Regions from separate parts of the Homo sapiens genome. Here region 1 is linked to region 2. Evidence: fine-mapped expression QTL. A gene starts in region 2. The other region holds a variant in brackets. All regions are shown on one strand. Distances are from middle to middle.

What was found.
Region 1: its variant is fine-mapped to the expression of IGHMBP2 in whole blood (TOPMed, PIP above 0.99). The same link has a PIP of 0.9 or more in blood mononuclear cells.

What each region holds. Positions count from the first base shown.
Region 1 is chr11:68,874,372-68,882,947 of GRCh38, reverse strand. LINC02701 (long intergenic non-protein coding RNA 2701) reads right to left here. Exons shown (of 2, transcript XR_950253.3): 2 at 8,400-8,576. Among named protein-coding and RNA genes, the nearest start is that of LINC02701, 10 kb to the right of the region's middle. The variant C/T (reference allele first, on the strand shown) is at 4,220.
Region 2 is chr11:68,899,051-68,907,626 of GRCh38, reverse strand. IGHMBP2 (immunoglobulin mu DNA binding protein 2) reads right to left here and starts at 3,736. Exons shown (of 15, transcript NM_002180.3): 1 at 3,589-3,736; 2 at 1,389-1,558. The coding sequence starts at 3,674. MRPL21 (mitochondrial ribosomal protein L21) reads left to right here and starts at 3,795. Exons shown (of 7, transcript NM_181514.2): 1 at 3,795-3,904; 2 at 7,022-7,079. The coding sequence starts at 3,817. RefSeq lists enhancers at 3,254-3,313, 3,644-3,763, 3,195-3,922.

The sequences.
Region 1 (8,576 bases), 25 kb after region 2:
CCTGGGGCTGGGAGCGGGGGCTCATGCCTGTAATCCCAGAACTTTAGGAGGCCAAGGTGGGTGGATCACCTGAGGTCAGGAGTTCGAGACCAGCCTGGCCAACGTGGTGAAACCCCATCTCTACTAAAAATACAAAAAATTAGCTGGGTGTGGTGGTGGGCGCCTGTAATCCCAGCTGCTCGGGAGGCTGAGGCAGGAGAATCGCTTGAACTCAGGAGCGCAGGTTGCAGTGAGCCAAGATCGCACCATTGCACTCCAGCCTGAGCAACAAGAGCGAGACTCTGTCTCAAAAAAAAAAAAGAGAGAGAAGCACACCTGGAAGGCTGGGTGCTCTCCGACCCACTTCCTGCACGGACACCTCTTCCCGTGACTGGGCTCTGCAGAGTCGAGGCCCTGGCTCCCGGGGCATAGACCAGGAATGGTGCAGAAACCCTGGCTGACTTGTGTTCCTGAAAGGCGCCATCTTGCTTCCTTCTTTTCTTCTTCCGGGTGATGCTACCAGGAGACACAGAGGTCCTCCCTCCAGAACCAACACTCAAAGGAACTGATGGATGGAATACAGTTGTGTAAAATAAAATCATATGGCACGAGGGCTGCCATGACTCAGCAGGACAAAGAAGAAATGGACAAAGGGTGAGAAGATGCAGTCCTTTCCCTGAGTAGACAAAGGAACATGGAAAGCCGGGCACAGTGGCTCACACCTGTAATCCCAGCACTTCAGGAGGCCGAGATGGGTGGATTGCTTCAGCTGAGGGGTTCAAGACCAGCCTGGGCAACATGAAGAAACCCCATATCTACAAAAAATATGAAAGTTAGCCTGGCATGGTGGCACATGCCTGTAGTCCCAGCTACTTGGGAGGCTGAGGAGGGAGGATCGCTTGAGCCAGGGAGGTCGAGGCTGCAATGAGCTTGTGTTCACCCCACTGCACTCCAGCCTGGGAGACAAAGTAAGAACTTGTTTGTTTCAAAAAATAAAAGAGAAACAGGCCAGGCACGGTGGCTTACACCTGTAATCCCAGCACTTTAGGAGGCTGAGGCATGTGGATCTCTTGAGCTCAGGAGTTCGAGACTAGCCTGAACAACTTAGGGAGACTTCTTCTCTAAAAAAAAAAAAATTAACTAGCCAGGTGTGGTGGTGCACACGTGTAGTTCCATCTACTTGGGAGGCTGAGGAGGGAGGATCCCTTGAGCCTCGGGGATGGAGTGAACCAAGATTGCACCACTGCACTCCAGCCTGGGTGACAGAGTGAGACACTGTCCAAAAAAAAAAAAAAAAAGAAAGAAAGAAAGAAAGAAAAAGAAAGAAGAAAGGAAAAAATAAAAGAGGAACAGAGAGTGTGGTGCCCAGTGCTTCTGGGTCCAGTGGAGTAGGAAGGTCCCTGACTGCTGAAGGAGCTCACAGTGATGTTTGTTGAGCGTTTCTATGTGCAGAGCACTGGACCAGGCACAACCTGTGCAATTCACCTAACCCCCTTCCTAGGAAGGGCCTTGTGACAGAGGCTCTGGGACTTTTCACATCTTACACATGAAGAAACTGAACGGCACAGAGGTTCTGGTGAGTCTCACCCCTGGCTGCACTTTATTTTTATTTATTTTATTTTAGAGATGGGGTCTTGCTCTGTCACCCAGGCTGGAGTGCAGTGGCACAATCATAGCTCACCGTTAACCTCCAACTCCTGGGCTCAAGTGACCCTCTCACCTCAGCCTCCCGAGTAGCTGGGACCACAGGTGTGTGCCACCAGGCCCAGCTAATTTTTGTATTTTTTTTGTAGAGATGGGTCCTTACTATGTTGCCCAGGCTTGTCTCAAACTCCTAGCCTCAAGCAGTCCTCCCTCCTGGGCCACCTAAAGTGCTGGGATGACAGGCATGGGCCACCACACCAGGTCCCTGACGGCGCTTTAGAATCCCCTGGTGTGTTTGTCAGCACAGGGTACATTCTGCAACCATAACAAATAAGCCCTAGCCCTTGGGGGCTTTACTCTAAGATTTTATCACTTGCTCACAAAAATAAAACCGGCTCACATCAGACAACCGTGGAATACTGTGAAATATACTGGGTCTTTGTCCCCTGTTCTGGGCATAGAACACCTAAAACCCTTGGAATTTCCAGAGTCATGGGATTGTCTTTTGTGATTCATACGTGCCCTTTTGATCACAGCTGAGTTTATGCTAATGAGATAAATTAGGGTAGGGCCCCCAAATAACCTCAGATTGGGGAGGGTTTGCAGTCACCAGAAAGACCAAAGGACTCCAGGGCTGGAACTTTCAACACCTCCTGCTAACCTCCAGGAAGGAGGGACGTGGTGACTAGAGATTAACCTCTTTGAAAACTTTTTTTTGGCCGAGTACGGTGGCTCAAGCCTGTAACCCCAGCACTTTGGAGGCCGAGGCGGGTGGGTCACCTGAGGTCAGCCTGGACAACATGGTGAAACCCCATCTCTAGTAATAACACAAAAAAATTAGCTGGGCGTGGTGGCAGGCACCTGTAATCCCAGCTACTCAGGAGGCTGAGGCAGGAGAATCGCTTGAACCCGGGAGGCAGAGGTTGCAATGAGCAAATTCGGCACCATTGCACTCCAGTCTGGGCAACAGAGCGAGACCCTGTCTCATTTTTTTTTTTTTTTAATTTTTGTCACCCAGGCCCACCACCTCACCTGACTAATTTTTAAATTTTTTGTAGAGAAGAGGTCTCCCTGCGCTGTCCAGGCTGGTTTGGAACTCCTGAATTGAAGGGATCTTCCTGCCTTGGCCTCTTCCAAAGTGCTGGGATTGCAGGCGTGAGCCACTGCCCTCAGCACTAAAAAACCTCTTGAACAACTAGATCTGATGAGCTTCCAGGATGCTGAACAGGTGGAGATGCTGGGCAGGTGGCATGTTCAGAAAGGGGATGGAAGCTCCGTCCCAGCCCCACCCCAGCACACCCTGCCCTGTGCATCTCTTCCATGTGCCTGTTCCTGAGTTTGTGTCCTTTCTAATAAATCGGTGAAGTGTTTCCAAGTTCTGTGAGCTGCTCTAGCAAATAACGGACCGTTAGGAGAGTGTCGTGAGAACCCCCAACTGACAGGCAATGGGTTAGAAGTGCTGGAGGCCTGAGCTTGGACTTGGGATTGACATCCGAACTGGAGGCAGTCTGTGGGACTGGGCGCTTAACCTGTGGGGTCTGTGCCAACACCAGGTCGACAGAGGCAGCATTGGATTACATTGCAGGACTGCCCAGCTGGTATTTGGAGAACTGCTTGGTGTGGAAAAAAACACCCACATCTGGTGTCAGAAGTAGAAAAACACAGTGTGTTTTCCCCCAGTTGGTGTCAGAATTGTGAAAGGAAAATAAAATCTGGAGACCCCAAACCTGCTATGCCAAAGGGAAGGGCTAAGCTGGGAAGCCAAGTGACACAAATCCTGCCTTTCCTTTTGTTCCTAAACACAGAGCAACAAGATAAGAGGCCACCCGTGAAGAGAGGCCACCCTGACAATGTCAATTAACAGCTTATCTTCACAGGCATGGAACAAGAGGAGACTAGAAATGGTTCCCACTGGCCGGGCGCAGTGGCTCACGCCTGTAATCCCAGCACTTTGGGAGGCTGAGGCAGGCAGATCACCTGAGGTTGGAGTTCGAAACCAGCCTGACTAACATGGAGAAACCCCATCTCTACTAAAAGTACAAAATTAGCCAGGCGTGGTGGCACATGCCTGTAATCCCAGCTACTCAGGAGGCTGAGGCAGAAGAATCGCTTGAACCCGGGAGGCAGAGGTTGCGGTGAGTCGAGATTGGAAAGAAAGAGAGAGAGAGAGAGGGAGGGAGGAGGGGAGGAAGGGAAGGGAAGGAAAGAAAGGAAAGAAGGAAGGAAGGAAGGAAAGAAAGAAAAGATACCTGCCATCACCACCCACCTCAATGCATATTTGACTTCTTTCTCATAAAAATGTAGTTTTATTGAGCTCGAGAAGAATACATAATGGACTGTTCCTCTGCCTCCTTTTCACATGCAACGTGTGGATTCAGTAGGTTTAACCAAGACCTCAAAACAATGTGACTGTACCCTCCCTCTTTTTTTGTTTTGTTTTGTTTCGTTTTGTTTCGTTTCATTTTGTTTCTGAGATGGTGGCTCTGTGGGCCAGGCTGGAGGGCCATGGCATGATCTTGGCTCACTGCAAGCTCCACCTCCCAGGTTCAAGCTATTCTCCTGCCTCAGCCTCCTGAGGAGCTGGGACTACAGGTGC[C/T]CACCACCACACCCAGCTAATTTTTGTATTTTTAGTAGAAATGGGGCTTCACCATGTTGGCCAGGCTGGTGTCAAACTCCCAACCTCAAATGATCTGCCCACCTTGGCCTCCCAAAGTGTTGGGATTACAGACATGAGCCACCGTGCCCAGCCCTGCCCTTTTTCTTTTTAATTTTTTTAATTTTTTTTTTGTAGAGACAGGGTTTTGTTATGTTGCCCAGGTCGGTCTTGAACTCCTGGCCTCAAGCAGTCCTCCCACCTCAGCCTTCCAAAGTGTTGGAATTACAGGCGTGAGCCACCACACCCAGCCTTATAGCTCACATTTTGATGAAAAGAGCCACATTCCACCTCATTTTAAAGCCAGAGCCCCACCCCAAAGTGAACATGGAATGTATGTTACATGCATGTTTACCCATCGCACGTGCACTCAACCCCCATTATGAACAAATATAGCTTTTCCTCCAAACCTGCTGAATACGTGTGACTCTGCTGTGTGATACGGGCCCTGTGAGTCATCAACCTCACCTGCCCTTTCCCTCTTGGAAGACAGCAAACCTTCAGTCCACACCGGAGATGACCTCTCCCTGATTTGCAAGCTGAAATCACCAGTCCAGCTCTTTCTACTATCTGGCCATCCTGGTGGCCTTTTGGACGACAGGCTGCTAGCCTCAGAGCTGACTCCCAAGGGCAAAATGACGCAGGAATAACAGAAAGTGCCTCTGAGAACTCTGGTCACCAACAAGGTGGTCCACAGCAGGGAGGACAGAACCAAGCGACTGCCAAAGCCAGGCCGTGGAGTGTGACGGAAGGGTTTCATTTTGTAGCTCCATGTTTTCTGCTTCCTGGGGCGCCTTTAGGAAAATGGATTCTGGCAGTAGCTGATTTAGGATCAGTGTCTTCAGTTTTAAATGCTGCAGGGTGGAAGAGTGTGTTTGGGTTGACACAGCACCCGCAGCTCACCATGGGACAATCACGGGGAGCTGTCCCTGATTCAGACACGCAGGAGGTGACTCCCAAGGGGACAGCTGGACTGCTGGACTGGGTAAAAGTCACTGTAGGGTCTGTGTACCCTGAGAAAGGTCCCTGTTCCTTTCCTCGTCTACATGCCAAGTCAAATGTCTCAGACGGAGCAGCTCATCAGATTTGAACACAAGCCATTTGATGTTGGCTTTGTGATGAACAGAATGTGTTTCTACTGGACATGCCCATTACCCAGGTCATGGAAAACGCTGTGTGTAAGGGTGCTTGTTTGTTTGTTTTGTTTTGTTTTGTTTTGTTTTGTTTGAGACAGAGTCTCTCTCTGTTGCCCAGGCTAGAGTGCAGTGGCATGATCTCAGCTCACTGCAACCTCTGCCTCCCGGGTTCTAGCGATTCTCCTGCCTCAGCCTCCTGAGTAGCTGGGACTACAGGCACACACCACCATGCCCAGCTAATTTTTGTATTTGTAGTAGAGATAGGGTTTAATCATATTGCCCAGGCTGGTCTCAAACTCCTAGACTCAGGCAATCCTCTCACTATGGCCTCCCAAAGTGCTGGGATTACAGGCATGAGCCATCACACCCAGTCTACCTGGGACTTTGGACTAGAAAATTTCCATTGGAGGGGCATTTACTAACTTGCTGTTAGACATTAATTGAAGCTACCTCATGACTGAAGGACATAAAATAATCTTGAAACCTGAAATACCTACAATACCTTGGGTGACATCACAGAAACCCTCTAATGGAGATGACAGCGCCAAGAAAAGTTCCGTAACAACACGAAAATGGTTCATATAGGATGGTGAACCATCCTATATGAAGGCAAGGATGGGGACTCCTTGCTGGGGAAGGCAAGGAGGAGACTCACAAGCAGGGAGAATCCCCTGGGACTGACTCTGGAACTGTGTGAGGAGCTGCTGGATGTTTTTTTTAACTTTTATTTTAGGTTCAGGGATACATGTGAAGGTTTGTTACATAGATAAACTCATGTCGCAGGGGTTTGTTGTACAGATTTTTTTTTTTTTTGAGACAGAGTCTCGTTCTATCCCCCAGGCCAGAGTTCAGTGGCATGATCTTGGTTCACTGCAACCTCTGCCTCCTAGGTTCAAGTGATTCTCCTGCCTCAGCCTCCCAGGTAGCTGGAATTACAGGCACCTGTCACCGCGCCCAGCTAATTTTTGTATTTTTAGTAGAGATGGGGTCTTGTCATGTTGGCCAGACTGGTCTTGAACTCCTGACCTCAGGTGATCCTCCCACCTCCGCCTCTCAAAGTGCTGGGATTACAGGCTTGAGCCACCACATCCGGCCTGTTGTACAGATTATTTTATCACCCAGGTATTAAGCCCAGTACCCATGTATCTCACGTTGCTAATAAAGACATACCCCAGACTGGGTTATTTATTTATTTATTTAGAGATGAAGTCTCACTCTGTCACCCAGGCTGGAGTGCAGTGACATGATCTCAGCTCACTGCAACCTCTACCTCCTAGGGTCAAGTGAGTCTCATGCCTCAGCCTCCCGAGTAGCTGGGATTATGGGCATGTGCCACCACATCTGGCTACTTTTTGTATTTTTAGTAGAGATGGGGTTTCACCATGTTGGACCGGCTGGTCTTGAACTCCTGACCTCATGTGATCCACCTGCCTCAGCCTCCTAAAGTGCTGGGATTACAGGCTTGAGCCACCGTGTCCCAGGAGACTGAGTACTTTATTTTAAAAAGAGGTTTAATTGACTCACAGTTCAGCATGGCTGGGGAGGCCTCAGGAAACTTACAATCATGGCGGAAGGGGAAGCAAGCATGTTCTTCTTCTTATGGCATCAGATAGGAGAAGTGCCAAGCAAAAGGGAGAAAAGCTTTTTATAAAACCATCAGATCTTGTGAGAACTCACTCACTATCATGAGAACAGCAGCATGGGGACAACCTGCCCCATGATTCAATTACCTCCCACTGGGTCCCTTCCACAACACGTGGGGATTGTGGGAACTACAATTCAAGATGAGATTTGGGTGGGGACACACCCAAACCGCATTAACCCGATAGTTATCTTTTCTGCTCCTCTCCCTCCTCCCACCCTCCACCCTCAAGTAGACCACCCTCAAGTAGGTCTGTTGTTTGCTTCTTTGTGTTCATAAATTCTCATTTGAGCTGCCGGATTTTATCATCGCTTGGGGAATGCCCCATACACAGCTGTCAACTGGCCAGGAAAGAGCTGCCTGGTTAGTGGTGAATAGGAAACATCCGGTCTGGAGGGATGCCACTGTGATCAAAGAAGGGTGGAAACAAATCAGCTTGGTGGGCTGAACTGCACACTGTTTTCCTGGCAGTGGTGGAAGAATTGAAAGGTAGGCCGGGCCCAGTGGCTCACGCCTGTAATCCCAGCACTTTGGGAGGCCAAAGTGGGCAGATCACTGGAGGTCAGGAGCTTGACAGCAGCCTGGGCAACACGGCGAAACCCCATCTCTACTAAAAAATACAAAAATTAGGCAGGCGTGGTGGCAGGTGCCTGTAATCCCAGCTACTCGGGAGGCTGAGGCAGGAGAATTGCTTGAACCTGGGAGGCAGAGGTTGCAGTGAGCCGAGATTTCACCACTCCACCCCACTCCCTGGGTGACAGAGCAAAACTCCATCTCAAAAATAAAATAAATAACATAACATAACATAACATAACATAACATAACAAAACAAAATAAAATTGAACAGTGGTGGGAGCCCCTGTGTTTAGGTTTTTACTGGCTCCTGGGCAGCGGCCGCATGGTCAGGCAGGAGGGTGGTAGAAACCTGGCTTATTGAAGGGGTGGCCACGTGGGGCGCGGCCCTGTGGAAATGTGGGGGTTCCTTCAAGTAGGACACATCGATGCCCATCAGAAGAACTTGTGCGTACTGGCTTAACGTGGCCACCACTTGGGACCGCGAAATGAATGGGTGTGGGGGGAACTGCCGCAGTGCAGGGATGGGCTGAACTGAACCCTGCTGATGAGTAGGTTTCCTTCCCCAGGTGGCACCATCCTGTACAAACCATTTCCATGTTGTTAGGAAACTCTTCTTGGCACTGCCATCCCCACTAGGGGGTTTCTCTGATGGCACCCAAGATATTTGTAGGTATTTCAGGTTTCAAGATGATTTTATGTCCTTCAGTCATGGGGTAGCTTCAATCAATGTATGACTGTTGCGATAAACTGAGGAACAGAGGAACCAATACAGAGTACAGGAGGATTTGTTTATTTTAGGTACGCACCGGCTCAGAGGATTCACATCCGAAAGCTGAGCCCTGAACAAAGAGCAGGGTTTTTATAAGCGGTCTTACAGAAGCAAAATAAAAACAGTAGCAAAATAAAAGCAGTTAATCATACAGTAACAGGTCACGTAATCTATAGC
Region 2 (8,576 bases):
TCCAGTAATTGTTGGGCTAAAGTCTACGAAATCAAAATATGAAATTTAAAACTCCGTCACCACCAAAACAAGGCAGAGACACTTCCATAGTAAAAAGTACAGCCCTGGCAACGCTGCTTCCTCCAGGCTTCCAAGGCTGTGGTTGTCTAACACAAGCATCCCAGGCGTGTGGTTAAGAAGCTTCTTCTAACTGTCCCTCCTTTCCAACCAGGCTGGCACAAGTTTAGCCAAAGCATGCTTGGCACAAGAAAGGGTTGGGAATACAGAAGTACACATCCTGCATGTTTACCAGCTGGACCAAGGCTGCCCATTACATAGAAACATAAAGAGAGTCACATGTAGTTTTTCTTTTGTTTTTGTCTGTTTTGAGAGAGGGTCTCACTTTGCCCCCAAGCTAGAGTGCAGTGGCGTGATTTCAGCTCACTGCAGCCTCAACCTCCCAGGTTCAAGCGATCCTCCTGCCTCAGCCCATCAAGTAGCAGGAACTACAGGCACACACCACCACATCTGGCTAATTTTTCTATTTTTTTGCAGAGATGGGGTTTTGCCACGTTGCCCAGGCTGGTCTCGAACTCCTGAGATCAAGTGATCCACCCACCTCGGCCTCCCAAAGTGCTAGGATTACAGGCACCCAGTCACGTGTAGTTTTAAGTTTTCTAGTAGCCATATTAAGAAATTTAAAAGAGGCTGGGTGCACTGGCTCACACCTGTAATCCCAGCACTTTGGGAGGCCAAAGCAGGCGGATCACCTGAAGTTGGGAGTTCGAGACCAGCCTGAACAACATGGAGAAACCCCGTCTCTACTAAAAATACAAAATTAGCCAGGCACGGTGGCGCATGCCTCTAATCCCAGCTACTCGGGAGGCTGAGGCAGGAGAATCACTTGAACCCCGGAGGCGGAGGTTGCAGTGAGCCGAGATCATGCCACTGCACTCCAGACTGGGCAATAAGAGCGAAACTCTGTCTCAAAAAAAAAAAAAAAAAAAGAAAAGAAATGGGTAAATTATTTTAATAAGATATTTTTTATTTAACCCAATATATGAAAAATATTATTTCAACATGTAATCAGTATTCAGAAAAATTACTCAAGATATTCCCAATTGTTTTTTTAACATAATCTTCCAAATTTGGTGTGTATTCTGTATCTGCGGCAATTACAAGCCACACTTCAAACATTTGATGACCACGCATGGCTAATGGCTACCATTTTGGACAACGCTGATCTAGACAACTAAAACCCACATCAATTGTTGGACTTCTGATTAAGAGTTCTTCATTGCAACGCTTTATTCTCCAACTGGTCATTTTAATCCAGTCTTTACGAGGGTACAAGTCACGGTCTGAATGCCAGTAAATTTCAATGTCTGTCTAGGTCAATACGCACACACCAGAAGTAAAGCTGTTACTGGGAAGAGCTGCCGCGGACCCGTATCGCCTGGGCTCAAAGGTGACCAGCAGCCGTCCGTACAGCCCAGTGCGCTGGCTGGATACCTGCAGCTTCAGCAAACACACGCCTCGGCTCTGGAGCTCTTTCAGAGAGATGTTCTCCTGCCAGGACCTGGAAGACACCCGGTATTGATGCTTCAGGATTTTTACTAGTTTCTACTTCCACCCACCCAGGAAAAGTAAAAGAGAAAGAAACATAGATAAAGATCTACTCACAGGCACTAAATATGTCCCAATGGAACTCCGAATTGGCTCCACTCCCAATCCCGCTCCTCCTACATCCCCCTAGGGCAGTTAATGCCACAACCCTTCTCTCAGTTACCTGAGACAGATCTTTCAATCAGCATTCCCCTCTCTCCTCCCATCTGTCACTAAGTCCTATCAGGCCCCTCCCATTTCTACCTGGACTTCTCTGCCTCTCATCCTGGCTGCCACAGCCCCGGTTCAAATCCACATCACTGCTCACCTGGACTAAACAGAGCCTCTCAACTACCTTACCTCTGGCCTCTCCACGTCCAATCAAAAGCAGGAGACCCAAGAAATCCTCCTAAAATGCAAAGCTATTCGCCTCCCTCACCTGCTTAACCCCGCTGATGGCCCATCCTTCATACACAGAACAGAAGACTAGCTCCTTAGCCAGGCCCTTCCCAGGCTCGCCCTGCCAGTCTGCTCAGCATCCTCAGAAAGAGCCACTGCCATGGGGGCTGACTCTGTCCTTGGCACCACGCTGAGCACCTGACTGACAGGGGATCGTTTCATTCTCAGAGCAAGCCTGTGAGGTGGGAATCATCCCAGTTTTACAGATGAAGTAAGTAAGGCTCAGAGACAGAACCTGCAAAGTCACACAGCCATAAATGAAACAGCTGGGATTCTAAGAAACTCAACATAACTGCAAAAGCTCTCCATTGCCATGATCAAAAGCATCTCAGACAAATCCTACCCACATATGGCTGACTGCAAACTCTGGAAGCAGACTGCCTGACAGCAAATCGGGCTACACTGTGTCACCCCGGGGCAAGTTACTTAACCCCTCTCTGTCTCCATCTCCTTAGACGGAAAATGACAGTAACAGAAACCTACACTGCGGCCGGGCACGGTGGCTCACGCCTGTAATCCCAACACTTTGGGAGGCCAAGGCGGGCAGACCACGAGGTCAGGAGATCGAGACCATCCTGGCCAACATGGTGAAACCCTGTCTCTACTAAAAATACAAAAAATTAGCAGGACGTGGTGGCGCGCCTGTAGTCCCAGCCACTCAGGAGGCTGAGGCAGGAGAATCGCTTGAACCCGGGAGATGGAAGCTGCAGTAAGCCGAGATCGTGCCACTGCACTCCAGCCTGGGCGACAGAGAGAGACTCTGTCTAAAAAAAAAAAAAAGAAAAAGAAAAAAAAGAAACTTACACTGTAGGGTTGGCATGGGATGAGGTGTAAAAGAATTAACGCATGGAAAGTACGTAAGTGTTAGCTCTGATTGTTTTGGACAAGTAAATAGTCCCATTCGGAAACAAGCCCGGCTCTCACATGGCTCCCCACACCTCTCAGGACGGCTCCCCACCCTACTCCGCACCCACCAGCTTAACTCCAATTTTCCTTCAGGCACCACTCCCTCCTTGAAGCCACCATGACCCTCCCCAGGGAAGGGCCTTCCTCCTCCAGGCTCTTTCCCCGCGACACGCACGCAGCCGGCCCTGGACGCACTGGAGGGGAAGGGACTCTCTGCTTATGCCCAGCCCGCCGCTGGCCGGATCGGGGGCAGCCAGTGCACCTGACTCATGCTGCCGGGGCCTGACTGAGAATGGGCGCAAACCATGTTTACTGAATGAATAAGGGAAAGGGCTGCTAACTCGCTGCGGGTGGAACTGGGGTCGGGGCCAGGGCCCAGGAGTGTAAGCTTAGTGGGGGGTCTCGGGTCGGGAAATCAAAGTGCTTCTTAAGGGTCCCCAAACGGAACGCGCTGCCCAGGAAGTGATGAGACTGACAACTCGGGAGGTGGCCAAGCAGGGGACGGACGATCCCTGCCCCTGACTCGAAGGGTCGGAGACGAAATTCCCGCCCCAGACTATGAGGCCGAGCCCCTCGGAGACTCTGCCCGGGACACGGCGGGACCGACCGCGAGGGAGCGGCGCCGGCGGCCTCCCGTACCTGCGCTCCTCCACCTCCGCGTCTCTCTCAAGCTCCAGCAGGTCCAGTTGCTTGGTCACGAAGCTCTCCACAGCTGCCGAGGCCATCGCCGCCGCCGGCCTGGGCCCCTAGAAGCCGACGTCCCGCTTCTGCGCCGGGCCGGTGTTACAGCGGACCGGTGTTCCCCGCCGGGCCCGTGCGTTACGCACGCGGTTCGCGTCGTTTCCGTTTCCGGCCGAGGCTGCGGCCATGGCAGCATCTTCCCTGACGGTCACCTTAGGGCGGCTGGCGTCCGCGTGCAGCCACAGCATCCTGAGACCTTCGGGGCCCGGAGCAGGTGAGACCTGGGATATGGGAGGAAGGGAGGACGCAGAGCGAGCGCTGCTCCCTGCGGTCTCGCCACGTATGTGCCTGGGTCCGACCTGGTGCCTTGTGTGTTGATCGCATTTGTGGTGAATATAGCACGGGTTTTGGAGTCGGGGGAACCCAGGTTCAGATTTTGATTCCTTCAGTTAGTAGCCTGAATACTGACAATAGCCCTTGAACTTTGGTATAGGCCCTATGTTATGGGGGAGAAGAGTGAGGCTCAGAGGAGCTAGGTAACGTGCCCAGGGTCACACAGCGGGGAAGTGGAAGAAGAGTACTTCAGGCGCAGTCATTTCGGCTCCAAAGCCTGTGCTTGAACCACTGCCCCCAGGCTGCGAGCTGGTCTGAAAAATGGTGATGGATATCCTCGCCTAATCTGAACTCATTCTGCAAAAGAAACAGCCGTATTTAAGGCGCTGGGCTGATACGAGGCTCCAAAAAGGTTATGTCCGTTAAAAACTCTATAAATCTCTGCTTGAAAATGGTTGGAGTGTGTATTTGTGTGCATGAGTGTTTATGTATGTTTTAAACCTGGGTTTCATGTCTCACCATGACCCCCAAAAATGGAAAACTGGATCTAACTCTATATTGGACGATATTAAAAGAATAGTACCATAATTCCCAAAACTTGGAAGCAACCCAGATGTCCTTCAGGAGATGAATGGTTACATAAACTGTAGGACATCCATACAGTAGAATATTATGCAGCAATAAAAAGAAATGAGTCATGAAGAGACATGGAGGAAACTTACATACATGTTACTAAGTAAAAGAAGCCAACCTGAAAAGGGGACATCTTGTATGTTTCCCACTATGACATTCTGGAAAAGGCAAATCTAAGGAGACAGTAAAAAGTTACATGGGGGGTAAGAGGATTGGGGGAGAAAAGGATAAATAGGTGGAGCTCAGAGGATTTTTAGGGCAGTGAAACTATTCTGTATGATATAATGGTAGATACATGTCATTATAAGTTTGTCCAAATCCATAGAATGTACACTACCAAGGGTGAACCCCTAATGTAGACTATGGACTTTGGATAACAATGATGTGTCAATGTAGGTTCATCAATTGTAAAGATTGTACCACTCTGGTGAGGGATGTTGATAGGAAGCTGTGGGCACATGGACAGGGGACATATGGGAACTCTCTGTACCTTCCACTCAATTTTGGTGTGAAACTAAAACTGTGCTAAAAAATAAAGTCTATTAAGAAATTAATAATAATCACAGAGTTGGGCCAGAGGCAATGTAGATGCCAAAATTGGCCATGAGTTGGTAACTGTTGAACCTGGAAAGGGATAATTGAGAGAGTTCACTATTCTGTTCTCTTTACTTTTGTATGCTTGACATTTTCCATAATAAAACTTAGGTTTAAGTAGGCAGGAAAGTTTTTACAAAAGCAGTGGGACTTACTCCATTCTACCTACCTACATGAAACCACCCCTCCAATGCTATGTTCAAGTACAGACTCACGCATTAGGAGAGAAAGACACACAGTGAAGCGAGTAGAGACAAGGTGACCAAAACAGTGAGCAGCTGGGGCCTTGAAGAGTGAGCAAAGGAGACGTGATGGAAGTACACAGTCACAGTCTCTAGGACTACCTAAAGGAAATCCTGTGGGAGAGGAAGGAGACTGTTTGTTCCCTGGGGACCCAAAAACAAAGCTAGAAGCAAATTAGGTACAGAAGCCTGCTAAGTTTTTAATAGTGGGATGGATTTGCCAATGGGTTGACTGAGTAGTGTGCGAGAGAAGAGTCAAAACTGATGGAGGTTTGGGGCCTGAGCAACTGGGAGGATGAAGTTGCCCTCATGTGAGAGGGAGGAGTGTGGGAGAAGCAGGCATGGGAAGAAATGAGGAGCCTCTGGAGGTGTGAGGTGCTCGTCAGACACGAGTGGCTAAGGCAGATAGATAGGTGGGTATGCAAAACCAGGAGAGAAGCCCTGGCTGGAGGTGTAAACTTGGGAGTCACCAGCACATTGGGGGTGTTTAAATCCATCGGACTGGATGCAGTCACCAGAGGAATGGCCATGGGCGGAGAGGAGGTCAAGGCCAAGGGTTGAGCCCCGGATGCCCAAATGGGAGAGGAGAGGAGAAAGCAGCCGAGGAGATGCAAATGGGGAGCTGGTGCTAATGGGTGAACTTTAAAAAGGTGGTTTTTATGGTGTGTAAATTATAGCTGAGTTTCTTTAAAAGTGGTTATTGAGAAACTGTTCTCTGCTTTTTACACCTAAGCACTTATTTTGATCCCCTGTCTTCTCAGTAGATTGAATGTCTTTGTTTCCTGGTGTATTCCTGGTGTATGCGTTATCTACGGTTACATCAGAAATTACCCCAAAACTTAGCAGCTTAAAACATTTATTAACTCACACCAGTTCTGAGAGCCAGGAACACAGAAGCAGCTTAAGTGGCTGGTTCTGGCTCAGGGTCTTAGCTTGCAGCAAGCAAGTCTGCAGGGGCTGTAGTTATCTCAAGACTCCACTGCGCCAGCGGCTGGAGAATCTACCTGCAAGGTCGTTCCCATGGGTGTTGGCGATAGGCCTAGTTCCCCGCCATGTGGACCTCTAGGTAGGGCTGCTCACAGCAGGGCAGCCCTAAGGCCAGAGATCAGAAAGGGTGAGCACAGGCATCCAAGATGGAAGTCCCAGTTGGTTATCACCTCATCCCAGAAGCCACGTGCTAGCATGTCTGTCACTAGCTGTTGGACACACAGGCCACTCCCAGGGGGCTAACAGGGGTAAGAATAGCAGGAGGCGGGGCCCAGCAGGGCCATCTTGGAGGCTGCTCCCACGCTTGGGCACAGATCAGAGTCTGAACCTACCAGGCACTTAGTCAAGGCATGAGTTAGTGGACGGGTGGTTCTGGTCTCAGGCGCTTGTAGATGATGTGGCTAACTGATCTCAACACATATAACCAGTAGCTGTAAGTGACGTTCTTGTAGTTTTGCTCACCTAGGTGTTTCTGTGGGCAGGCTGTCATGCAGTGGTTCATACCATGTACCAGGAGCAGCAGCTGTGCATTTAGCATCATAAAGGGCAGTTTGCATTTGTAGTATTAATGGTAATGATCTGTGTTTCTCTTCTTCCCTCAGCCTCCCTTTGGTCTGCTTCTCGAAGGTTCAATTCACAGAGCACTTCATATCTACCAGGGTAATATCAAAATGTGGGTTTTGGTGCCTCTTTTCCTTTCATTTGTAGAACCATCTTTCTAAAGTCAAAACTTCCTACCTTTTGGTTCTCAATAATATTTAAATTTCCTCTTTTGTTTTTAAGAGACAGAGTTTCACTATGTTTCCCAGACTGGTTTTGAACTCCTGGCCTAAAGTGGTCCTCCCGCCTCAGCCTCCTGAGTAGCTGGGATTACAGGCATGCACCACCACTTTCAGCTTTAACTTTTTTGACGGTATTTTTCTGAGACCCTTAAAAGAAGACGTAACTGCAAGAGACCAAAGAGAAATTCTGTATGTGTTTGCTCTCTTTTATTATGGAGGAGCTTGAAGTCTTAACTCAAGATTTCTGATGAGGAAGTTTGTATCAGAGTCTCTAAGAGAAACTCATTATTTGAAAAAGCACATTCAGTGTTAAAATTTTATACTTGAGAAAACATTTTTAGGTATCATAAACTGCAGAAAACATTCGACAAAGTTCCACTCACTGGTGGGAGACACAGGAGCAGTGCAGGGATAGCAGTTACTGTAGGGACCCCCCCGGGGTGCAGTTCCGGCTGCCCCTCACAGCCTGGGACGCCAGGCTTCTGCAAGATGGAAGTAATGTTCATTTCTATCTGCATGGGTGTTGGAGAGGATTAAGTAAATGTATACATTTAAAGCTCTTAGAACAGTGCCTGGCATACAGTCAGCACTCACAAAACATTGGCTGCTGGAACTGCTGCTGGGACTCCAGGGATCCTCTGCAGTGGGGAGATGTGGGAGTCTTTCTTGCTTCTCAAAGAAGCGGCAAAACATTCTGAGCATAGGAAGAAGTTGTAAGTGAGCATGTGGGTAGGTTGTGCCTACTACCCCTGTGTCCTGTGTGAGAGGTTAGCACCTTCCTGCCAGCGTGTTCTTCTCACACTGGGCACTGCTGAACCCGTATGGGGAGACTAGACATCAAACAGGTCAAAGACGTTTTGTAGAGAGCAGCACCTTCCTTGTCCTCCTTGTCTCTCAAGGTCATTGACCAACCACAGATCACGGAGTTCATGTCTCTAGGAGCTCCAAGCCCTACCCCACTGGGAAAGCATTCATTCCTCTCCCAGATTGGTGTGGAGCCCCTCCTGCGCGCCAGCCAACAGGACGGGTGGGCCTGGTCTTTGGTGTGGAGGCCGGTGCATTTTGCATATGGAGCAAGTCGTTTTCTTCCTCCTAATGCAACCCTGGAGTAGAAAGACTGAAATTTTACTTTGCAGTGGCAGCAGCAATAAAAGCTTAAAAACGGTTCTGAATAATTCGGTTTGGGATCTACCTACCCTCCCTCTTTGTAGACTACAGAAAGAAAGACCCCACCTCCTTTTGAATCTAGGCCCCCCTCTTTCTTTCCTCCCTTCCTCTCCCCTCCACCTACCTGAGGCTGAGCAGGCAGGGGAGAGTTAGGAAATGAAGAAGATCTTGGGCTGGGCACGGTGGCTCATGCCTGTAATCCCAGAAT